Linked DNA regions of Homo sapiens: region 1 is linked to region 2. Evidence: fine-mapped expression QTL. Tissue or cell type: subcutaneous fat. Region 2 holds a variant in brackets; the other region holds the start of a gene. All regions are shown on one strand. Distances are between the middles of the regions.

The links. PIP is the estimated chance that this variant, and not a neighbour inherited with it, causes the effect.
Region 1: it holds the start of GOLIM4, and the variant in region 2 is fine-mapped to the expression of GOLIM4 in subcutaneous fat (GTEx, PIP 0.93).

Annotation. Positions count from the first base shown.
Region 1 is chr3:168,092,129-168,100,319 of GRCh38, reverse strand. It overlaps GOLIM4 (golgi integral membrane protein 4), which reads left to right and starts at 4,396. Exons shown (of 16, transcript NM_014498.5): 1 at 4,396-5,221. The coding sequence starts at 5,035. RefSeq lists enhancers at 3,621-3,670, 3,868-4,369 and silencers at 4,041-4,280, 4,571-4,620.
Region 2 is chr3:167,937,221-167,945,411 of GRCh38, reverse strand. No RefSeq gene overlaps it. Among named protein-coding and RNA genes, the nearest start is that of GOLIM4, 150 kb to the left of the region's middle. The variant C/TC (reference allele first, on the strand shown) is at 3,237.

The sequences.
Region 1 (8,191 bases), 150 kb before region 2:
TTGGAAGATTTAGGAAGTTCACTTCTGAGGCTCACATATGCTCCCTTTCCATTCTTTCTAACTTCCTATGAAATTAAACTGAAAAAAAAATGTGGTAGTTAGCTCATTATATGCTAGCTGTAACAAACATTAAGCAACATATTCATAATGATTTCGTATACTGCCTTAGAATTTGGAAAAGTTTAGGGTTGGCTAGATATCCTGCTTTAGAATGTTGTTAGAGGTTTGAAATGATAGTTCCTCTTCCTTTAGACTAGCTACACATCCTGTGGCAAATAGGGACTTCTAAATCACGTCCATTATTAGTAGTCTGTATTCAAAAGGTATTTATTTATTTTTATTTTATTTTATTTATTTTTTTTTTGAGATGGAGTCTCGCTCTGTTGCCAGGCTGGAGTGCAATGGCGCAATCTCAGCTCACTGCAACCTCCGCCTCCCAGGTTCAAGCGATTCTCCTGCCTCAGCCTCCCGAGCAGCTGGGACTACAGGCACACGCCACCATGCCCAGCTAATTTTTGTATTTTTAGTAGAGACAGGGTTTCACCATGTTGGCCAGGATGGTCTCGATCTCATGACCTCGTGATCCGCCTGCCTCAGCCTCCCAAAGTGCTGGGATTACAGGCGTGAGCCACCGCACCCGGCCTCAGAAGGTATTTCTTAGTGATATTGATGGTAAGGTTTCTCTCATTGAAAAGCATTTTTATAAATAAGAACAAATCATCTACTTTCTCCTCTGCCCTCCTCTTCAGATATAGTTGAAAATTACAAAGGTGGCAACGTAGTGACAGATGTAAACAAGGCATAAAGATACATTGAGTGGGGTTCAGTTACTCAGTTATGCATTCAACCACAGACCTACTTTTTAGTTTGTTAATCTTCTAACAATTACTACTAGGTCATTATCAAAATCCTATGAAAAAGGAGTCTCAAAACATCTTTCACAAAATGTTCAAAAAGACATAATACCTTGAATGCAGCTTTCTTTACCTCTCAAAACAGGTCAGGTAAAAGTGGCAATCAGCAAGGCAAGTGTATTCATTAGGGGACAGCAAACTGATGAAATGGCAAAAAGGTGAAGACATCATAGAGTGAAGATTGTTTTATAGGATAAATAACTTTTGTAATTGTCAGATGAAAAGATTAAAATTAGTTTATTAATACTGAAAAGCTATTTTAAATTTTATTTACTATTCATCACCTTTTCTTAGGTGATGATTTCTCCTACAAATTACAAAATATTGAGTTCCATTTGTAGTAAAGAAATTTAAATAAAAGATTTAGATAATAGAAATTATTTACTCTAGGATCCTAAATATTATTAATTTAAAATCTTACTTTTAGAAATTATACGTCAGCTGTCTCTCTCAACTTTTTATTTTTTCCTTCCCTTATTTTGAAAATGAACAAATTTGATTAAAATGACAAATTCACTTAAGTTAGAGAGAATTAATATTCCCAAATGTTATATTTGCCCTTCTCAAATGTAAGACCTTGAGTATCTTTAAGTTAATTTCTTCCTGCCTCAGAAATAAAATACTAAATCAGTAAAATTCTTCAGGGTTTATAATTTAAAGTTAAATATATTGTTAAATATATGGAATATAGAAATATAATTATATATACTATTTTTAAAATAACAAAGAAGCAAAAATAAAATAGAATGAACAACACACCTTCCAAGACCAGTATAAACAGCTGTTATGTTATAATTGCTACCCAAAGGCAATGTTATGTAAATTCATTTTATAGGCCTTGGATAGCTTCCTCATGTTGGCCGCTCAAAAGCTCTATACTGACATTTTCAGGAAACTAGCAGCATACTTTACCTTGGAAATGTAATATTATAAAAATACCACCATTAGTAATTTTATGTACTTCTACATACCCTTCTTGAATTTGAAATAATGGATAAGTTCAGGTAATAATTTTTGCTGTCTTTCAAATTTTATGACTAAAATATTGAGTTGTGTTTTATGGCCTGCATTTATTATGTTCTGTAGAGTCAGCCAGCAGCTTTAGGCAAAGAATATCTTTGGAGTCTGGAATCAGATGCAAAGGAATCAGAGGTTTAAGATGAATCATACATTCAGGAAACATAAGAATTTTCCAAAGATTCTAAAATACATATTGTACAATATATGAGCAATAATTTTCCAACCCTCTATACAACTTCTTTTTCTTTTGTGGCTAGGATAATTTTCTCTTCAAATATGGGGCAAGATTATTGCCATAAACTTTATTTATTTATATATTTATTTATTTTGAGACAGAGTCTCACCTCTGTCGCCCAGGCTGGAGTGCAGTGGTGTGATCTTGGCTCACTGCAACCTCTACCTACCAGGCTCAAGGGATCCTCCCAACTCAGTTTCCCGAGTAGCTGGGACTATAGGTGCACGCCACCATGCCCAGCTAAATTTTTATATATTTTTTTTTTTGTAGAGGAGGGGTTTTGCTATGTTGCCCAGGCTGGTCTCATACTCCCAAACTTAAGCGATCTGTTCGCATTAACCTCCCAGAAGTGCTGGGATTACAGGAGTGAGCCACCATGCCCAGCCTAAATTTGGATAGTGTTTTTGGAGGAAGAGTTTGTTTAACAAAGTACTCTGACAACAGTAAGGAATGTTTAGTTATGAGGAATTTTAAAGAGATTCCAGTAATTATCCAATGTTAATTTCTGAGAGTCAAACTAAAAAAGAGGAATTTAAAGTGGTAGATTTAATAATAAGGAAGATTATGTAGTATTTACACAACAAAACTCCCAAACTCCTTTAGACTGTTTTCTTTTACAATCAGATTCTCATGTTAATGGAGATATAATTTCTTACTGTAACTTGTTTAATAGAATGAGAACATTGTTTCTATTGAAGAAAAAGACATAGAGCAGGGTTTGGATCTGGATTCTAATCTTGCTGAGTAACTAACTTTATGCAAGACCTAAAAGGTCCTAGAGCTGTCATAGTCACTTTGATAAACTTTGGCTTCTTTACCAACATGAAAGTCTAACACCCTGGCTGTGATCAGTGAGACAGTGTATCTGCACACGAAAGCATTTTGAATAATTTAACGCAAGTTATTATTTATTAAGGAAAAGCACATGCAAGACACACTTTATTTTTACAGTGGTATAAATGCCACAGGGTAGCATCGTTATAAATTCAGTTTATTTTAGGGCTTTAGCAACCTATAATTTCAGAGTCCACCTAAAAAAACTTTTGCACCAGGAACTGTCTTTCTGTTGCATTTAGCTAAAGAGATTTACCCCCATTTTGAGCACTCAGGCCCATTAGCAATGGTAACGACTAAAGTCCAGTTAGAATATAAAAATTATGCAGTGTATCATAAATTACACCACACTATACAGACAGATAAAATTTACTTTTCTTAGAATTCAGGTCAACAGCAGAAACAAAAATTATCATTTGTGCATAACCTTAATTATTCCCCTCAAGTACACAGAAAAAATAAATGCAGTATACATTTCTTCGAAGAGGTTTGTGGTTACTACCTTTCCTGTGCTGTACTAGTTTTTACATAGGGAACCTTTGTTGCCCTTTAAAATGTAATTTAGAAATGTAACTGATGTGTTTTGCCACCAATAAAACAAATACATATGACAAAATGAATGGATACTCATTTCAGTCTGTACGATTTGTTTTTAAATTATTCTATTTGCAGCTAGAGGAGAAATGTGAGACCATTTCTTTCCTCTCTGCCAATGGCAAGCCGATTTCCCCAGCCCACGTGGACAATTGAACATTAAGTCTAGCGTGCTTCCAGTCTCCCGACTCCTGCCGGGCCATCTGTGGGCACACACACATCTAGGCTAGTACACTGGATGGGGTAAGGCAGTCGACATGGCATCTCTGGTTTGACTACCGGGATTGTGCTATGTAGCTATCCCATGTGTCTGCCGCATCAGTTTATTGGACAGGGAAAGAAAGTGTACTCAGCAGAGTGCACACAGTTACTGCCATCCATTCTTTCGTTCATACACACATTTTACTCCGCTCTCCACGTGCGTTCCGAACGAGAACTGGAACACACACACACACACACACACACACACACACGTGTTCACCGAACCTCACCCAGACTCAGGCCCGGACAAGTCCCCCGCCCACCCAAAGCTCCCCGCCCTTCGCCCTTCCGCCTGCCTCTTCCCACCCTCTCCGACTCCACGTGGGCGCACCCCGGCGCCAGGCGGCCGCGCTGCCCACAGAGCCCCTAGCCGGCCCCGGCACTGGGAGGGAAGGTGCGGCCCTGGGGTCGGACGGACAAAGCCGGCATCCAATCGAGCCCGGCACTGCCTCCCCGAAGGGAGGGAGCGTCTGCTCGGACGGGCCCAATGAGCAAGGAGGCCGAGTGGGACTTCCTCCCGGAATCCCGTTGGCCAGAATAGCCGGGCCGTGGGTGACACGTAAGTTGGGCAGGAGGTGGCGGGGCGGCAGAGGCACCAGCCGACCCGTCAGTGACACCGCTGTGCCGTCCCCAAAACCAGCCGAGACAGCTGGCCCCCACCCTTCCACCCATTGGGCAGGCCGCACGGGGGCGCGGCCCGGAGTCCTGGTCCCTTTGTTGGGCGCGCACCCCCTCCCTTAGGTGGCAACAAAGTCGTGCAGTGGGAGCCGCCGCGATAGGGCGGGGAGTGGCCAGGGCGGGACTCCAAGAACTGCCCGGGGGCAGCGGGGCCAAAAAGTGGGAAGAAGGAAAAAAGGCAGGAGGCATCTGGGGACAGGCGCGAGGGCAGCCGGCTCTGAAGTATGCGGAGGGCCTCCTCCCGGCCCCGGGCATTCGCGGAGAACGAGCCTCGCAGAAGTTTGGCTGCAGCTGCCCGGGCGGCGTCGATGGCTGCGCGCCCCGCGCCGCGCGGGGGCTGAGCGGGCGCCACTTCCCCTCCGGGCCGGCTTTTGTGTCTGGCATCTCCTCCTCATGCTGCGTCTGGCCACCTACTGCGGCGGCCGCTGCTGAGACGCTCGCTCGGACCAAGGGGAGGAGACGGCGGGGGCGGCCGCGGCTTTGGGTCCAGGCGGGACTATGGGAAACGGGATGTGCTCCCGAAAGCAGAAGCGGATTTTCCAGACGCTGCTGCTGCTGACCGTCGTGTTCGGCTTTCTCTACGGCGCGATGCTCTACTACGAGCTGCAGACGCAGCTGCGGAAAGCCGAGGCGGTGGCGCTCAAGTACCAGCAGCACCAGGAGTCCCTCTCCGCCCAGTTACAAGGTACGGCTAACGGGACGCGCGCAGCCGGTGGCCAACTTTGCCCCGCGCCTCCACCCGGGCAGGAAAAGTGGCTTTGGTGAGCTATTGGCACTGTGGTTGCCACCTCTGACCTTCAGGGACGTCAGAGGTGAGCGTTTCAGGACTGCCGGCACCAGAGTGTCAGGGGAGATGACATTCTCATCCTCCCGCTTCTTCCTCCCAGCGGTTAGGTTTAGAACTTCGTAGCACCAGCCCATCGTCCCGCTGGGCGTTTGGTGGGCGGGTGCACAGATAGTCCTTTACCCGAGCTCTTGTCAAAGGCCCAGCTGCAATCGGGGCAGGGAAACTGGTAGCCCTCCGCCGCTTCTGCCAGCCCTGCTCTGAGGAGCATTGTTCCGTGGATTCTAGGTATTTGCTTTCTTGTTGACTTTGTCAGTTGCTTAAAAAATGAAGAGTTTGGCAGAGATTTCTCAAACTGTGCTGTTTTTCAAGGGAAAATTAAGCCATGACCCAGCAGCTTAATTAAAGTCATGGCCCAGTCGAATGGAAGGAACCTAGATCTGGACCTGCTAGTTTCTTATTTCTTATTCTTTTAATTTAATAGGATGTCTTTAGAGATGCTGGATGTGTGGGAAAAGTCCACACTACATACCATTCACCATCCTGCAGTAGTTTATTTCTTTAAAAACAGGTTTACTTGTCTTCCTAAGTAGCTTTTACTTCATCACAGAGATGCATGTATGTTACAGTTAGCTTCGGGAAGCCAAAGAGGAGAAACACAGGTTTTCACTTTGCCATGCACAGCAAACCCAACTTGAGCAAGACCTGTAGAAGAACTTAAAGTTTCTATCCTATTTTAGAATCTAATTTAATGTAATTTTCACAAACATAATTTACTTTAAATGTAAATTCAGAATTTGAATTTGAATTTACTTTTAACGTAAATTCAAAGTCAGCACCATGTCCTCTTGTTAAGGACGTATCCTATACATATTTTTTTTGCAAGCTTTTACTTGTGGTTAGTTTTCAATACTTATGCAGCTTTCTCCCCAACCAAAAAATAATAATAAATAGCTGTAAGTGGTGAAATGTTGGCAGACTTTGCTGATGATGCAAATATAGCTTGTTTAATATTGCTAGGTAGATAGATGCAAGCTAGAGGGATGTTTCTGTGTATGTGTGTGCAGATATGAAACAGATGCCTCTTCTTTGCTTCAGTTATTTTGAGTGTTTTCTAGTAAAAAATTTAAGATGAGAGAAAATGATACACATCCGATTGTTTGGACTTAACTTGCTCTTCCCAACTTAGAAGAAAGAAAAGTATTTTTAGCTTACTGACGCTGCATAGCCACAGGCAATGAAAATATATGGCTCGGCTTGGTTCAAAAGTAAAACCCGTTTTGATACGCTCTTAGGTTCACAAAATTTTCTTTAAACTCATTGAAATTTACCCATGAGTTATTGTTGGTATGAGAATATGGATATTTGTTTACTTATTTATTTACAAGGTATCAGTTGCTTCCCTGTGAAGTTCCATGGAGTCAGACCAAGGGAAAAATTTACCGTCTAATAGTATAACAGGACTAGATTTTCATAAACATGGCTGGAAGGGGCATGTATGGTGGATTATATGAGGTTGTGTGTGCCTTGGTCTCTTAGGAGTCCCATGAGGGCAAAGGCTGTCATTTTCACCATTACCTCCTCAGCACCACACTGTGCCTGACACTCATTAGGGGAATCAATGCATGTTTATTCAAACAACAAACAAAAATTATTCTGAACTGTGGCGAGTAAGTTCATCCCAGGCACTTTTGTCTTTCTGAGACTTTGCTTCTGTGTCTTTGCTTTTTGAAAGCCAAATAAAACAAGAAAATATTTTGTTCAAGTAGCTCCTTTGCCTCAACGGCCTATGATGGACGATGGATATTGTTGACTGAGGCCCTAATTTCTGAATAATGGCCTTTATTTGCAGTATTTCATTTTGAAATTTTAGAAATTTCTTTTCTAATTTGCCTTTTCTTTTTTTAGTGGTGGTGGTGGTAGTGGGGAAGAGAGGTGGTAAATGGTAATACAGGATCATTAAAATATACAACTTTTGTTTTGCAGCAGATGGAAATGTTCTACCTAATTTGAATAAGTGGCTTCAAAGTCCCTTTCTTAATTTATTCTTTTGTCATTTCCTCTCTAATTATGGTGCTACAAAACTTGCAGTATAATTGTGCATGAATAATTATTTCACAAGCAGGCTAAAGTATTTTTTTGTTTGTTTTTGTTTTTTGTGGATTCACTTTTGACTTCAGTAGCATTTATTTTGGATTTCCCATGTGTAAGCCATTTAATGTACATTTTCTGGTGGTATGCAACTTTTGCTTCCCTTTTCCAAGACAAATGACATTTTACTCAACAGCACTGTGTACCACCTGCATAGATGGGCTTTTAGGACATCAGGCTCTCCAGTCTTAATACTTGTTTAGTTAGGTGGGATTGCTTGACCTGGCTTGGATTAAGATCAGAATTAATGACTTTAAAAAGAGTGGTCTTTTTAAAAATGACTCTTGAAAAAATTTCAGTAGTTTAGACCTATAATCTGATGATGTGCGTTCGTTAAGTGAGCGTATTTAGGTCACCTTCAGTTTAAGAATAGATTATACTCCATAGATTCCTTTGAAAGTGGGTTACTTGTAACCCCAAGTTAACAAGTTTTATTGTAGAAGAGCCCCATAACTAGAAGATGGTGGGGATGGCATGCAGAAAGGTCAGAGACTAGGCAAACCCCTTCCACTATAAAAATATCTATGTCTGCCTGTTTATCTATCCCTCTTAGCAATCAGTCATCTATTTATCTCCCATACTGGCACCTTAATTATACTGAGGAGTGGGACAGAGGTCACATACTGGTGGCAAAGGTAATAACAATCTTTGGCCAGCACAGTGTTTATATAACCTTTAAAGTTTTTAAACTGCTTTCAAGTGAGCCATGCTCCATTGTCT
Region 2 (8,191 bases):
TTTTTCTCTAGAAAAACCTAATTGACCTCGCTAGAATCCTCCAATAATGCTTTTATATCAAACTTTTTTTCTTCTGGTCCAAATTCAATCCAAGATTATGTGCTGTGTTTACTTATAATTGCTTTTTAGTCACTGCCAATAGATAATTTTCCTCAGTATTGGTTAATTTTTTTTTTTTTTGTCTTTTATGACTTTGATATTTTTGAATAGTACAGGCTGGTTGTTTGGTAAGATGTTCCTCAATATGGCCTTCTCTGTTGTTTTCTCACGATTAGATTCAGGTAATATTTTGTGGTAAAAATTTTATAAAAATGATTTTGTGTTCTCAGGGAGGTACATGATATTGCTTTGCTTCATTTCTTGCAGTGTGAATTCTTTTAGTTATCATTCCTTCCAATTATACTAGTTGGCCTTTTATTTTAGTGTTCAGATTTCTCTTCTTCTCCACTTAAAAAATCATGCAGGAAATGGAACACAATATTGGAGGAATATTGGACTTGTGAGTTGGGGTGCAGCTGTGGAGGTTAAATGTACTTTCGTCTCAGACCACACACATTTTAAAGTGAACCTGCCTGGGACTGTTCTTCACCATTTCCTGGGAAGTCTTTATTGCGTGATTCACTGTTTCTTGGTATATATGAGATATTTTCTGTTTGTCCCCTTGGGTCTATTTTCAAACTTTTCTCACCCTTCCTTTTGCCCAGGGTACTGACTTCTATGGTTTCTTGTTGGGTTATGTCAATGATGGATGCTGGCTGGAGCTGGCAGCTTCGAAAAGAGTAAGTTTGAGGCACTTATTCTTCTAGCTTGTGCCCTGAGAAGTGACTACAGGTTGACTGTGTCCAATGCTAAAGGCCACATCTCTTGCCCGGTAGACTTTACTGGAAAACTCACGTATTTGGTAATTGCTCCTGTTCCTGTTTTTTAGGACTAATGATTGTAATAGCTTCACACAGTTGCTAGCCTCAGGCTACCCTATTATTCCTTTATCAAACTTACCTTTTCACCCAGTTTGTAAGATCTCCATGAGTGTAAGATCTCAGTTTGACAAATATGCCATTTATCTTTTTTCTTTATTTACATTCTTATTTTATTTTGGTGGAGATCATCATTAAATTCACCCACAGCTTTCTGTGAAAAGATACATGGATAGTACAATTTTTGATACCTCAAGTCAGAAAATTTCTTTGTTTAACCCTCATTTCTGATTAATTTGGGCTGGGCGAAGAATTCTAAGTTGAATATATTTTTCCTCTTAAATTTTTGAAGAGGTGTTTTCCATTTTCCTCTACCTTCTTGTGTTGTTATTAATAAGACCAATGCCAGGCTGATTTCTGACCTTTTTAATAAAATAATGATTTTTTTTCTGTAGCGCTTTCATGTTTACTTCTTTGCTCGGTGTTCTGGAATTTCTTAAGTCTCTACTTCGTGTGGATCTTTTTTCCTTCACTATGTTGGAAACTCAGGAGATGCATTCTATCTGGAAATTTTGTGTTACATTTTCTATTTCTGAGTATTGCTGTTTTGAACATTAGACTTCTTATACCCATACTCTAATTTTCAAATTTCTCCATAGTTTTATTTTTTTTTAAAAAAAGCTAGATCCTAAAAAATGTCCTTAATTCTATCTTCCAGAATTCGTATTAAAATTTTTATTTTTGGTATATTTATACATACATACACATATATTGTGTATTTGGTTAATTACGTATGTCAAATTGATTGAGCTATTGGTTGGCCAGATATTTAGTTAAACGTTATTTCTGGGTTATCCATAAGGGTATTTCTTGATGAGATTAATTTTCAAATTAATATACTAAGTAAAGCAGATTGTCCTCCCCAGTGTAAGTGGGTCTTGTCCAATGTGTGGAAGGCCTGAATAGAGTAAAATGCTAAGTAAGAGAGAATTTGCTCTCTTTGCCTAACGGGGTTTGAGCTGGGACATTGGTCTTCTGCCTTCAAACTTGGACTTGAGCTAAAACTTACACCATCAGCTCTCCTGGTTCTCAGACCTTTGATTTGAACTGGGACTATACTACTGGCTTTCCTAGGTCTCCGGCTTGCCAAGTGCAGATCCTGAAAATTCTCAGCCTTCCAGCCTTTGTATTTGTGTGTGCCAATTTCTCATAGTAAATATCTTCGTGTGTGTGTGTGTGTATCTCCTGTTGGTTTCTCTGAAGAACCCAAACCAATACAGATTTTTATATGTGCATATTTTTCATTTCTAAAGCTCTTTTATTATTTTCTCAATATCTCTTTGTGGTAGCTTGTTGCTCTTATTTTATAAACACTTATTTTATATCTCTGTGGGAGTTAATTATACATTTTTTCCTTTTATATTTTATTCTATTCCCTGAATTGTCTCTTTCTCCTAGAATTTCATTGTTTGTTTTGGCTTTTTTATTTTGCATCAGAGGCATAAATACCTGATGAGCCTTTAACGTCTGCTCATATTTAAGAAATAATCACTAGAATATTGATTAGAAGTTCTGCACGTATAGGTGGGACTTATCTACGTGTGAGCTTACTATAAGGTGCATCAGAAGCTCTCCAAAAGTGAGTATTGATAGGTCTTTTTTGTTAGGCTACTGAGTTTCCCCAGAAGGGAATCTTTATTGCTGTGCTCTTGGAGATGAGGCTTATTTCTGGTATTTTGAGAGCCATGCAAATGAAACGGGTTAGAGGGTGTCATGGACTGAATGTTTGTGTCTCCTCTATATTTATATGCTCACCAGAAACCAACCATTCTGAACTTTGATCTTGGACTTCTAGCCTCCAAAACTGTAAGAAAATTAATTTCTGTTATTTAAGCCACCTATTCTGTGGCGTTTTTTTATGGCAGCCTGAGCAGACTAATATGGTGTGTATCTATGTCTTTCTCTTAGTACCACTCTTCTTAATATAATGTTTTCATGCCTCATATGTTGCCTTGGTTGTACACGATGTCCTTGGATCTGTTGTCTTATCTCTACAAGGCTGAACCTTGAATTTTCTGCCAAGGAAAAGAAGGGAGTATACGTCTGGTTATGCAGTATATACATTTGGTGTGAAGGTCTAAGTGCCACATCTAAATGCTTTCCACAGATCCACCTGTTTTTAGCCCCACTCTGAACACTTCCCATCAGGCAGATGACTCCAATTCCTGCATGTCTGGGGTTTTACAGATTGAGTTACCTTGTTTCTTGGAAAATTTGTTGCCATCTTTTTCTATTGTTGTTTCCTCTCCTGTCTCTTTC[C/TC]TTGGAAATGTATGTCTTTGAAATGTTCTAGTTGTTGTTTTCCTGATTGTCATTTTATAATAGTCATTTTAATGAGGTCCTTTGGACACCAAAATATCATGGAGTTGATTAATTCCACTAGTTCTCCCACCCTAGAGAGCCATTTTTTTCAGACCACATCTGCAATAGATTGCAGAATGAACAGCAGGGACAGAGGAAGAGATCAAACTGGCTGGAACACCTAGAGCAGGGGAGGGAAGTAGGAAGCCTGTGCCCCATGATAAAGCCAATATTTAGAAACCAGACTCTTATGGAAATCAGTTGGCCAGACAGTGTTAAGAAACAGTGATAAAGAACAAACGAGGGCTTCCAGCTGTCTCTGAGCCATAGTGAATGACTTCCCCCAACCTTCCTCCTGCCTAATAGCAGAGAGGGCGGGGGAAACCACAAAGAAGCTGGAGGAAACCGCAAAGAAGCTGGATGTAAGCAGATGATGTCTCTTTTCCAAGTCACATGAGAACTAGACAGCCTACAAAGGGGAAAAGGGAAAGAGGAACATTATATTAGATAAAGAGGCAGAATTTTAGGAATAATTGATACTGACTCTTTAAATGCCAAAATGAGACTGCTTAAAGAATAAAAATGGATTAAAGGGCTATGCACTCTGTACAAAATGTATTTAAGAGGATCACTAAGATGATGAACCAACTGAAGTAACAGTATCAGCAAGTTGAACACAGGAAACTGGGTGGAGGCCAGTTTTAAAAACATTTTTTCCAAAGCATTAACTAAACCGCAACATTTCGCTCTTTCTTTCTGACTGCAGTTGTGCTGTAATGGCATCATCCATTATTGCATTAAGTATTATGGACATACGGGGACTATGAGATATTTAGCAAAAACTTTTTTAAACCTCAATTTATAGCCTCTGGTTGGGTGACCTTGGGAAAGCGAGTAAAGTTATTATTTAGCTACATTTCTTTCAATCAAGAGAATAACATCTGCCTTGCAAGTTGTTATGCTGTTATGCAGATCAGAGAAATTGTCTTAGAACCATGCCTAGCTCTCATTAATGACAATTGTTGATAATTCAGTACAAAGACAAAACACAATAAAACTGAACATGTAAGCACAAAATAACTAGGAGAGGTTAACTTATTAGCAAGAAAAGAATTTGAGAAATTTGTTACAAACCTGGAAGTGCTAAGTTAACTTATCACAAGTGGAGCATCTACAACCAAAAGGCAGCAGGGACAATTTCAGCAGTTTGCTCAAGCCAGAAAGGAGACTGATATGTCACACTTCTTTTGCATCATGCATTAGGAGATTCTGTGCTATGAGCTTTGCAAGTCAGATTTTGTATGATGGGCAGAAAGGGAGATATCAAGTTTGAAACTTTTCTCTTTGTTGTGGCCTTTAAATACTGCCGGGGTATGGCTCGTTAAAAGAAGATGAAGCAAAGTCTAGAAATATAAGTTTTACATTTTAATCACATAGGAAGCTCGATGCAGAGATTTTCAGAGGACATTTTTCAAATCATGAACTTCTTAGAATTAAAGGCCTCTAAAGAAACCAACTTTTCAGATCCTTTATGACTCACAAGATTGAATTTTCTACTCATATGTCAAGACACTGAACACATTTGTCTTAAAACTTCAGGGAGAGAAAACAAGTTTATTATTGATTTGTTCAAGGAGGTGGTAGTGCAGATACAAGCGGGTTATGTGTGTAGTGTGGGTGCCAGTGTGGTCTGCACCTGAGTGCCCTGCTGGAGCTAAAACATGACCAGTCATGTCTGGAGGACACGTGAGACTGGTTCACCAGAAATCTATTTATATTAGGAATGAAGCACCTCCTAGGACGTAAATCATCCTAAAGGGAAGAGGAATCAGATATATGGGGCTGGTTCAATGGCAAAGACTATGTCACCTGACAGGTAATTTTGAGGATAGCATGGTTTATGTTACTTAGATTCTCAGCCTCCCAACCTTCTTCCAATTTTCTGGCGTTCGTATACATTTTAGGAATTGTGATAGTTTTAGGTGTCAACTTGACAGAGTTAAGCAATACTCAGATATCTGGTAAAGTATTATTTCTGGATATTTCTGTGAGAGTGTTTCTAGAAGAGTTTGGCATTTGAATCAGTGGGCTGAGTAAGGAAGAGCCACGCTTACCCAGTGTGGGTGGGCACCATCCATTCAGTTGAAGACACAGATAGAACAAAAAAGGAGAAAAGAAAAAAGGCAAATACTTTCTCTCTCCTTTCTAGAGCTGCAGTTCTCTTCTTCTTCTGCCCTTGGACACCAGAACTCCAGATTCTCTAGCCTTCAGCCTGGAACTAAGAGTTATACCAGCATACCCCTAGGCTCTTAGACCTTCGGACTCAGATTTAGCTATGCCACTGGCTTCCTTGGCTCTCCAACTTGCAGATAGCATATTGTGAGAATTCTCAGCTTCCACGGTTGCATGAGCCAATTCTCATAATAAATCCCCTCTCTATCTATCTATCTATCTATCTATCTATCTATCTATCTATCTATCTATCTATCTATCCTATTAGTTCTGTTTCTCTGGAGAAGATTAATTCAGGTATTATAAATAATTTTTGTCATAAACCTATAATAACAGCTCTTTAAATTATTTGGAAAGAATCAGCCCTTTCTATTTACCTGTGTTTCATAGCATAACATCAAAGAGTGAGAGTTGGGGAGTGTGCACTCAAACCCCATCTACCCATCTCCACTTCTGCATGAAATATAGAATGTCTTTCCTAATCTGAGGACTCCAGGGAACCAAGATCCCTTTGGCCTTTCAAGGATCTTAGAGGATGGCAGCAGTGACCATCAAGAGCTGGGTCAGCATTGAGCCTTGGATGTTCACAGATGTAAGACACATTCATGTGACTACACAGATACAACACAGGCCTCAGAAATGAGAAAAGAAGAACATGGTTAACATTCATTCATTCAGCAAGTAATTGTTGACGAATTGACTAAATTGCTAGAATGCTTGGATGCTGTCTAATGAGACAACTTTGCAAAGGCCTAGAGATTCTTCAACAGACCATTTGAAGGAAGGTCATTGCCTATGAAATATGAACTACCTTTCTTAATGTCACCTCCATGAAGGCAGGGGTTTTATCCATTTTAATCACTACTCTAAACCCAGAGACTACAATGGGAACACATCCATGATAAGATCTACTAAATACTTATCAAATTTGTTGAATGACTATGATTTCATTTACTATTCTGGGCAGATTGTTCAATAAAACATGGTTTAATGGTTAATTTTGTGTTTCAACTTGGCTGAGCCATGGAGGTGCCCAGATATTTGGGTGAACATTGTTCTGAGTATGTCTGTGAGGGTATTTCTGAAAAGACTAACATTTGAATTGGTGGACCAAGTAGAGCAGATTGCCTTGCCCATTGTGTGTAGGCTTCATCCAATGTGTTAGAGGCCTGAGTATAACAAAAATGCTGAGTAAGGGAGAATTCACTCTGCCTGACTGTCTTGGAGCTGAAACATCAGTCTTCTCCTGCCTTTGAATTCAGACTAGAACTATAATATTGGCTCTCCTGGGTCTCCAGCTTGCTGACTGCAGATCATGAGACCTCTCAGGCTTCATAACCTGTGAGACAATTCCTTATTTTTAAAATATATTTATATATATATATATATAATATATTTATATATAAATATAATATATATAAATATATATATAAATATATATATAATATATATAAATATATATAAATTTATATTTATATATAAATATATAAAATATAATATATATAATATATATATTTATATATAATATATTAGATATTATATATAAATATATATAATATATTATATATTATATATAAATATACATATTTATATATATAATTTATGCTACATATATATGTAACACAAACATATATATTTGCATGATATATAAATGACATATTATGTATTCTATAACTATATATTACATACTTATTAGCATAATCTATATGTAATCCATGAGTTTTAGTCTGGGTTCCCCAGAGGAACAGACTGATAGGATATATATATATATATATGTGTGTGTGTGTATACATCCCCACAGCCCCCCACACACATATTCCATGTATATTATACACACATACATATATAATACATATACACCATTATATAAAATACCTTATATATAATCCATGTATATTATATACACACATATATTAAATACATTTGTTCTCTTCAGCCTTTCTTATGTTTAACTTGCTTTTATTTTTCTACCTTCCTGAAGAAGAAACTTAGATTATTGATTTTAGATATTGTTTTTCTTTTAATACAAGCATTGAACACTACAAATTTCCCTCTAGTGCTGCTTTAGCTGCCTCCCACACACAATCTTGAGAAATTAAATTAATATGAGTAAATATCTATATTCGTGACTCTAGTTATAAAAAGAGAAAAAAGAGGAAGAAAAAATACCATATTTATTTGAACAGCTTGCTCATTGTAGTTAATAACTTACTGATAAAAGAGAAAAGGAATCAGTGAGCAGTATTACTGACACATCAGTAAACACTGATAGCACCACAACCTAGAGCATGGGTTTTTTTTCCAGGACACTTCTGATACCATCATTATCTTGCAGAAGCAGTTATTTTAGAGCCAAGTCCCTATAAAACCAATTAAAGAGTGTAAATATGGTTGATGTTTAGGAAGTCTTCCATTGGCCACTCTGGTCCATTTTCCAGATTATGACATTTGTATCTGGGTGGTAGTGGTAATAATGGCAGTGTTGCTGGATCAGAAAGGAAAAAGAAAGAAATGGATCCATAATTGTAGTAAATATTTATTGAATAAACATTAACTATTTACTTAATAACAGGGAAGAAAAGGAATTAAGTCATGAAACTTCCTTTTATTGTGTAATTACTTTACTTCCTTGCAGCTGGACATTGTGCGGGAAAAATACTTTTTGCAGTATCTTCACAACCCAG